Regions from separate parts of the Homo sapiens genome. Here region 1 is linked to region 2. Evidence: fine-mapped expression QTL. A gene starts in region 2. The other region holds a variant in brackets. All regions are shown on one strand. Distances are from middle to middle.

Region 1 (2,892 bases), 20 kb after region 2:
TGTTTATTCCTCGCCTGAGGGAGCAGAGGTGAGGGGATGACACTGCCCCGCCTGAGCCCCGAGTCCCTGGGCCACGGGAGGTGGGACTGGGTCTGGCCTTTGGTGCCACAGGTGGCACTCTCTCTGTTGCTGTTTGCAGACTACGTCTACTTTGAGAACTCCTCCAGCAACCCATACCTGATCCGGAGAATCGAGGAGCTCAACAAGGTACTGGGGGGCCCTGGTGTTGCTGCAGGGGGGTAGTGGGTGGGGGCTACGCCAGCTCCTGCCCTGTGGGTGGCCAGTGTGGGTGGCCCCCTTTCGGGGCTGATCTTGGACTGGCCACTGCACAGGCCCTTCAGTGACTCCGTCCACTGTCACCTGCACCGTGGCTCCTCCTTGGAGATACTGAGTGAGGGGCCTGGTGGCCTCATGCAGGACCCAGCGCAGCTGCCCTGAGCTGCCTGCCCACTCTACACTTGGTCTGTGGGTGCTGGGTCCCCTGAAGATGCCAGTGTCCCCTGGGGAGCCCGAGCGGAATGGTGTGATTCTGAAACCAACCAAAGGCTGCAGAAAGCCATACTCGGTGCCCCTGCCCTGCCCGAACCCTGGCAGCCAGCCCTGCAGGGCTGTGAGCTCTGCCCCCACCCCTGAGGTGTCTGCATGGCTGGAAGCACCCTCCCTGGTCACTCAGGCAGCCCTGCAGGGCTGTGAGCTCTGCCCCCAACCCTGAGGTGTCTGCGTGGCTGGAAGCGCCCTCCCTGGTCACTCAGGCAGCCCTTGCTCCCACCTGGTTTGTGTCTGCCATGAGTCCTTGGCAGTTGCTTGCTGTTTGGTCGGGGGACGTGGTTGTGCCCATGCATTGAGCCTGGCAGCACCAGATCCTTCCTGGGGGGTGGTGACACATGGGCCCCTCAGCCCCAGCCACTCCTGGCCTCCACTGCCTCGGCACAGCCTCCGTCCCATCAGCTCGGGAGACAGAGCCGTAGATGGCCATGGAGGTGTAGGGCGCCCGCACACCCTGGGAGCCTTCTCGCTGTCCTCAGGGGTGGTGGGTGGGTCCCCCAGCGTCCCTTCTCCTCCTCCTGGTTGGAGACTTTCTAAGGGTGTTGAGGGAGGGCAGGTTGTCCCCACCAGTGGACACATGGTTCCAGCAGAGAGTGGGGTGGGGTGCTGGGTGCTTCACAGACCTCTCTGTGCCTGCCTGCAGGGCTCCTGAGCCCCCGATCCCCTGGAGCCAGTGGCCCGATGGCTGCCTTCTCCTAGGAGCCCTGCCCACTCGGCAGGCCTGGGGCACTCGGGCCCTTGGTGTTCCATCTGGATGCTGCAGGCTCACCTGGGAGAAGCTGCCTTCCTGGACCTCAGGCTTGGTGGCAGCGGTGACGTGGGGTTCTTGGGATCAGAGGGGGCAGCGGGGGGAAGGTTAGCGCGCCACCTCTGACGTAGCCATGCTGGGCTCCGGGCTTCCCTGGCTGCGCTTGTCGAGGGCCATTCCCTGCGGTATCTGCCACCACCTGGGGCCGAGGAGCATGGGGTGCGACATCTGCTCCCCCGCAGCTTCCTGGGAGGTCTGAGGGCCAGGCCTGTTTGTTGGAGGCACAGGCAATGACCTGGGTGTCTTCTGAGTCTGCCTCACTGCCCCTGCTGGGCAGGGCCTGCCCGCCTGCAGAGCA[A/C]GGCCACTTGGGTACTGCCGGAATGGGGCGCCACTCCTGTGGCTGAGCCTCCTGAGTGCGGGGCAGCACTTTACGCATCCCAGCATGTGGACTGTAGGGAAACAGGTGCAGAGGGAGGTTCCTCAGCTGACGCTGAACCATGGCTGGGGGAGGTCCTGTGTCCCTCCTGGTCTGTGTAGTGGAGGGGCGGCCGGCAGATGGCACTGCTGGCCCCACACAGCCAGCTGGCAGGCAACCCGGGGCGGGAGGCTGCAGTGCCTCCGTGGGCGCCTGGCCGAGTGCCACTGCTGGGAGGTGCCACTGTCAGGAAGGTTCCCTCGTGCTGCTTCCGGCTTCCATGTGCAGACAGTAGATTGCAGGCGTGTGCAGGCAGGGGGCTGGCTTCCAGCCCTTGGGCGATGTTCAGTTACACATGTAGCATTGCACACGCTCAGAGGCGTCCCCTTCGTCCTAGGACTCCCTCCTCCTCAGGGCCAGGGCCACATGGCGTGGGCACTTGCCTGTCTCTGGGCGGGACACCAGCCTGTGAGGGGCACGACTACTCTCTTGGACTGTTCAGGCAGGGCAGCCGAGCCAGACGCTCACCATGTGGAAAAGAACCCGCAGGCCTGCGACAGAGTGCGGCCAGTGCCCTCCACGCCAAGGAGCTCCAGGCGGGGCTTCCAGGTGGGCGCAGCTGGTTGAGTACAGACCTCCCCTCTGTTCCCTGGACTGAACGCCCCCTCAAATAACAAGAAAGTGGTGCTGGGGCTCTGCACCCACAGGGCAAGGAAGGTGGGAGAGGCGGTGCCACTGGGAGGTATGGGCACAGCTTGGAAGGCAGCCAGGCAGACTGGGCAACCTGAGAGGCCCTGGCCCTGGCCTGGGTCAGGATGGGGAGAACAGGAACCATGGTGACATGTGGCTGGCAGCGCGGAAGGCCTGTCTGGGGGGTCAGGTGGTCCCACAGAGCCCTTCCCTGGGCTGGAGCAGTGGACTCAGAGGACCCAGATTTGGGGCACCAGACCCAGGCCAGCACAGTTCGTGCGGGGGCTGGAAGTGGGGATCGCCTGGCTCATGGCCTGTCCCCTGGTGGGCCCCCCCGCCCCTCTTGCCTCCTTGGCTCCCAGGACCCTAGCGGCCAGACTTCTAAAGCCCACAGACCCAGCTGCTGGCATCGGGGACCCAGCAGAATGCCCGCTACCCCAGCACCCATGGGTGCAGCCCATGCAGCGAGCTGCCCAGCACCGGGGAGGCTCCC
Region 2 (2,892 bases):
GTCAGGATGTGTCCCAGTGGTGTGGCTGGGTTCTCAGGGTGAAGCTCGTCCATTTCTGGGATGGCAGCGGAAGCAGGCACTACACACGCAGCTTCAGGGGGCTCTCCCCATGCTTCCTAGCTGCCTGGCACTTTCTGGTGTTTCTGGCTAACTTTCTGGCCATGCCAGGAGTTGGTGGAAGGAGATCTCAGGCTGCAGCTTTGCTTTCCTGCTGAGGAGACAGAGGTAGGCTGGGGCTGTAGGACAGGGGAGGCCAGCAGCCCCACCTTCCTTCTGGAGAGACGCTGCCTGTCTGTCATTGCCCCTCTCCTGCACCTGGCCGCTGGCTGGCTGCTCTTCCCTCCCAATCACCAGCAAGCCAGCTCCTGTTCCCTGCAGCCCAGCCCGCAGGATGTGTCCTGGGACCCATAGCCCTCTCTCCCCAGAGACAGCACCGCCCTGCAGCTCGGGTTCCTGGCCCTGTGCTAACCCTGGTGGGGCTTTCCTTACTGGTCTGCTCTGCAGCCATGACATTGTGGCCACCGCTCTCCTTGGGACCCCCACCTGGCTTTCCTCCCAGCACATGCTGTTTCCTACCCACCTGGATGGTGTCCTGTGTGCTGGATTCCCCATGCTGTGTCCCCAGCATCCTGACCATGTCTGTCCCGCCTGCCTAGATCTTGCACCGTGGCCACGGGGCTCCCTCCTGATAGCCCTGAACGCTCCGCTCCATGTCCTACAGAGAGGGATGTCCCAAGTAGATGTCAGCTCCCTCCAGCATCTGAGCAGGCAGGACAGAGACCCACGGTGCTGCTCACATCAGCAGCCTGGAACCCCGAGACAGCTCCTTTTGCTCACCTCCCCCAACACTGATGTTGCACCTGTCTCCAAGCCACTCTGGGACCATCTGTTTCTCTCCATCTGGGAAGCCCCCTTCGCACCTCATGCTCTTCCTGGCTGGGGCGTCTGGGTCACTCACTGGACTCTCCTCTCCTTAGACCTGTGCACAAGCACACACGGGAAGGCATCCTGACAGGTGGTGGGAAGAGAAGGCAGCTGCCTCACTGCGGAAAGAGCACGGCCGCTCCTGGACTCCAGCCCTGTTGGGGCTGGCGGGGTCAGCAGGCGCTGGGTTCCAGCCTCAGGTGGGGTCTTTGGAGGTGGCCTCTGGGCACAGGCACCTCCTCTGCGGCCTTCTCACCAGGTCACGGTTCAGGGAGGCTTTGCCGGCTACGGAGCCTGCCCACACCAAGGCGCGCACGACCACCTGTCCAGAGATGCCACGCGGGCTGGGCGGCGAAGGCCAAGGACACGCCCTGCCTGGTGTCGGGGGCAAAGGTTAGGCCTGGAAGGGAGGTGTGGGGTGGGGACCCCGAGGCCAGGGCTGGGCCGCTGAGCTTCAGGGCCCTTGGGGGGCTCAGGGAGGAATGCCGGAGGACCCCAGCATCAGGAGGAACCCCTGGAGAGCTACGGCAGGACTCACCTGTGGGGCACAGGGAGGGATCACCAGGGAAATGGCCCTTGTGGAGGATCTCCCCTCTACCCCCAGGGCACCAGGGGAGGATCTACCAGGGGGTTCTGGTGGAAGGGCCCACCCGGGAAGCGGCGCGCGGGGAGGACTCGGGGGCGCCGAGAGGAACTGTCCGGGAAGGGGCGCGCGGGCCGCGGGCGGCGCGGGGTCGGTAACGGCCCGTGCGGTGGGCGGCGGCGCCCGAGGCCCCTCCCCGCCGCCCGCGGCCGCTCCTCCTCTTCCTCTCCCGCCCGCGCCGCGGCCCTCCCGTCCCTGCGCGGCCTCGGCGGCCTCGGCGGCGGCGGCGGCGGCGGCGGCGGCAGCAGCGCGGCCCCTTTAAACGCCTGCGGCGCCCCCCGCCCCCGCCATCGCGCCTCCATTTTCCCGGCCGCCCGCGCCGAGCGCCGCGCCCGCCCCGGGCCCCTCCGCCGCCGCCGGCCCGGACATGGCCGCCAACATGTACAGGGTCGGAGGTAAGGCCGCACCGCCTTTATGCCCGGCCCCGACCCGCCCGCAGCCCCCACCCGCCGCCGCTGCCGCCTCCCCCGCCCCTCTGCCCCGCAGGCCCCGCGCCCCCCGCCCGCCCTCGCGGCCCCCGGCTCCTTCCCGAACCGCCCCCCGCCGTGCTCACCCCAACCCAAAATGGCCCCGCGGGTCGGCCCCATCGGGGGCGGGCGGGGCTCGGCGGCCCGGGGGTGGGGGGCGGCCCACCTGTTGGGGCCGAGGGGGCGGCCGCGGGGGTGGCGGGGGGGCGCGGGGCCTGCGGGACATCCGGGGGTCCGGGGCCGGGAGCCCCCAGCGGGAGCACGTGGCCTTGGGAGGCGCCGGCTGCCGGTCTGGGAGCAGGAGTTTTGGGGCTGTGGGGTCTCCCCCGGCCCGCGGCCCTGTGCTGGGACTCCGGTGCATCCCCTCTGGGGATGGGGAGCCCCGGTGAGGGGCCACGTTCCTCCCTAGAGCCCTCCTGCAGCCTGGCCCCGGGGCTTCCCCCAGCAGGGATCCCTCAGGGGGTCTTCAGCAGGGAGCGAGCATCCCGAGCACGCCTCTAAGTCCCCCCAAACTTTTCCCTGCCTCTCGCTCACCTCAGCCCATTCGGGAGGCGCTTTGCAAGGGTTGGGGAGAGGCCGGAGGGCCTCCTGGGCAGGGGCTTCCTCCGTGGGCCCAGCCTCCTGTTGCTCGGGCCCCCCGGGCCTGCAGCTTTGAGCCTTGCCCTCCTTCGTGTGCCTGGGACTCCGTGGGGTCTTTCACAGGAAGGTGGGGGGTCGTGTGCATTCCATCATTCCATCAGCGCCTCCCTCCCCAGGACTCTGAGACCCCTCCCTGCCTGTGACCCTCTCGGGCAGGTGCTCATTACCTTTCCCACCTGCAGCCTGCGCTGCTGGAGGGAGCTGGGGTCACTCCCGCTC

Direction of the effects. Positions count from the first base shown, and alleles are read on the strand shown. Sizes are in standard deviations (SD) of each study's normalised expression.
In carriers of allele A in region 1, the expression in fibroblasts of the gene that starts at base 1,638 in region 2 tends to be lower than with C alone (small effect, 0.26 SD a copy in GTEx).

What was found. PIP is the estimated chance that this variant, and not a neighbour inherited with it, causes the effect.
Region 1: its variant is the best candidate, but not a certain one, in a credible set for the expression of MTA1-DT in fibroblasts (GTEx, PIP 0.71).

What each region holds. Positions count from the first base shown.
Region 1 is chr14:105,438,533-105,441,424 of GRCh38, forward strand. It overlaps MTA1 (metastasis associated 1), which reads left to right. Exons shown (of 21, transcript NM_004689.4): 2 at 140-207. Among named protein-coding and RNA genes, the nearest start is that of MTA1, 20 kb to the left of the region's middle. The variant A/C (reference allele first, on the strand shown) is at 1,653.
Region 2 is chr14:105,418,102-105,420,993 of GRCh38, forward strand. MTA1-DT (MTA1 divergent transcript) reads right to left here and starts at 1,638. Exons shown (of 2, transcript NR_125385.1): 1 at 921-1,638; 2 at 1-208. It overlaps MTA1 (metastasis associated 1), which reads left to right and starts at 1,726. Exons shown (of 21, transcript NM_004689.4): 1 at 1,726-1,962. The coding sequence starts at 1,935. RefSeq lists an enhancer at 1-592 and silencers at 1,290-1,389, 1,420-1,469, 1,560-1,819.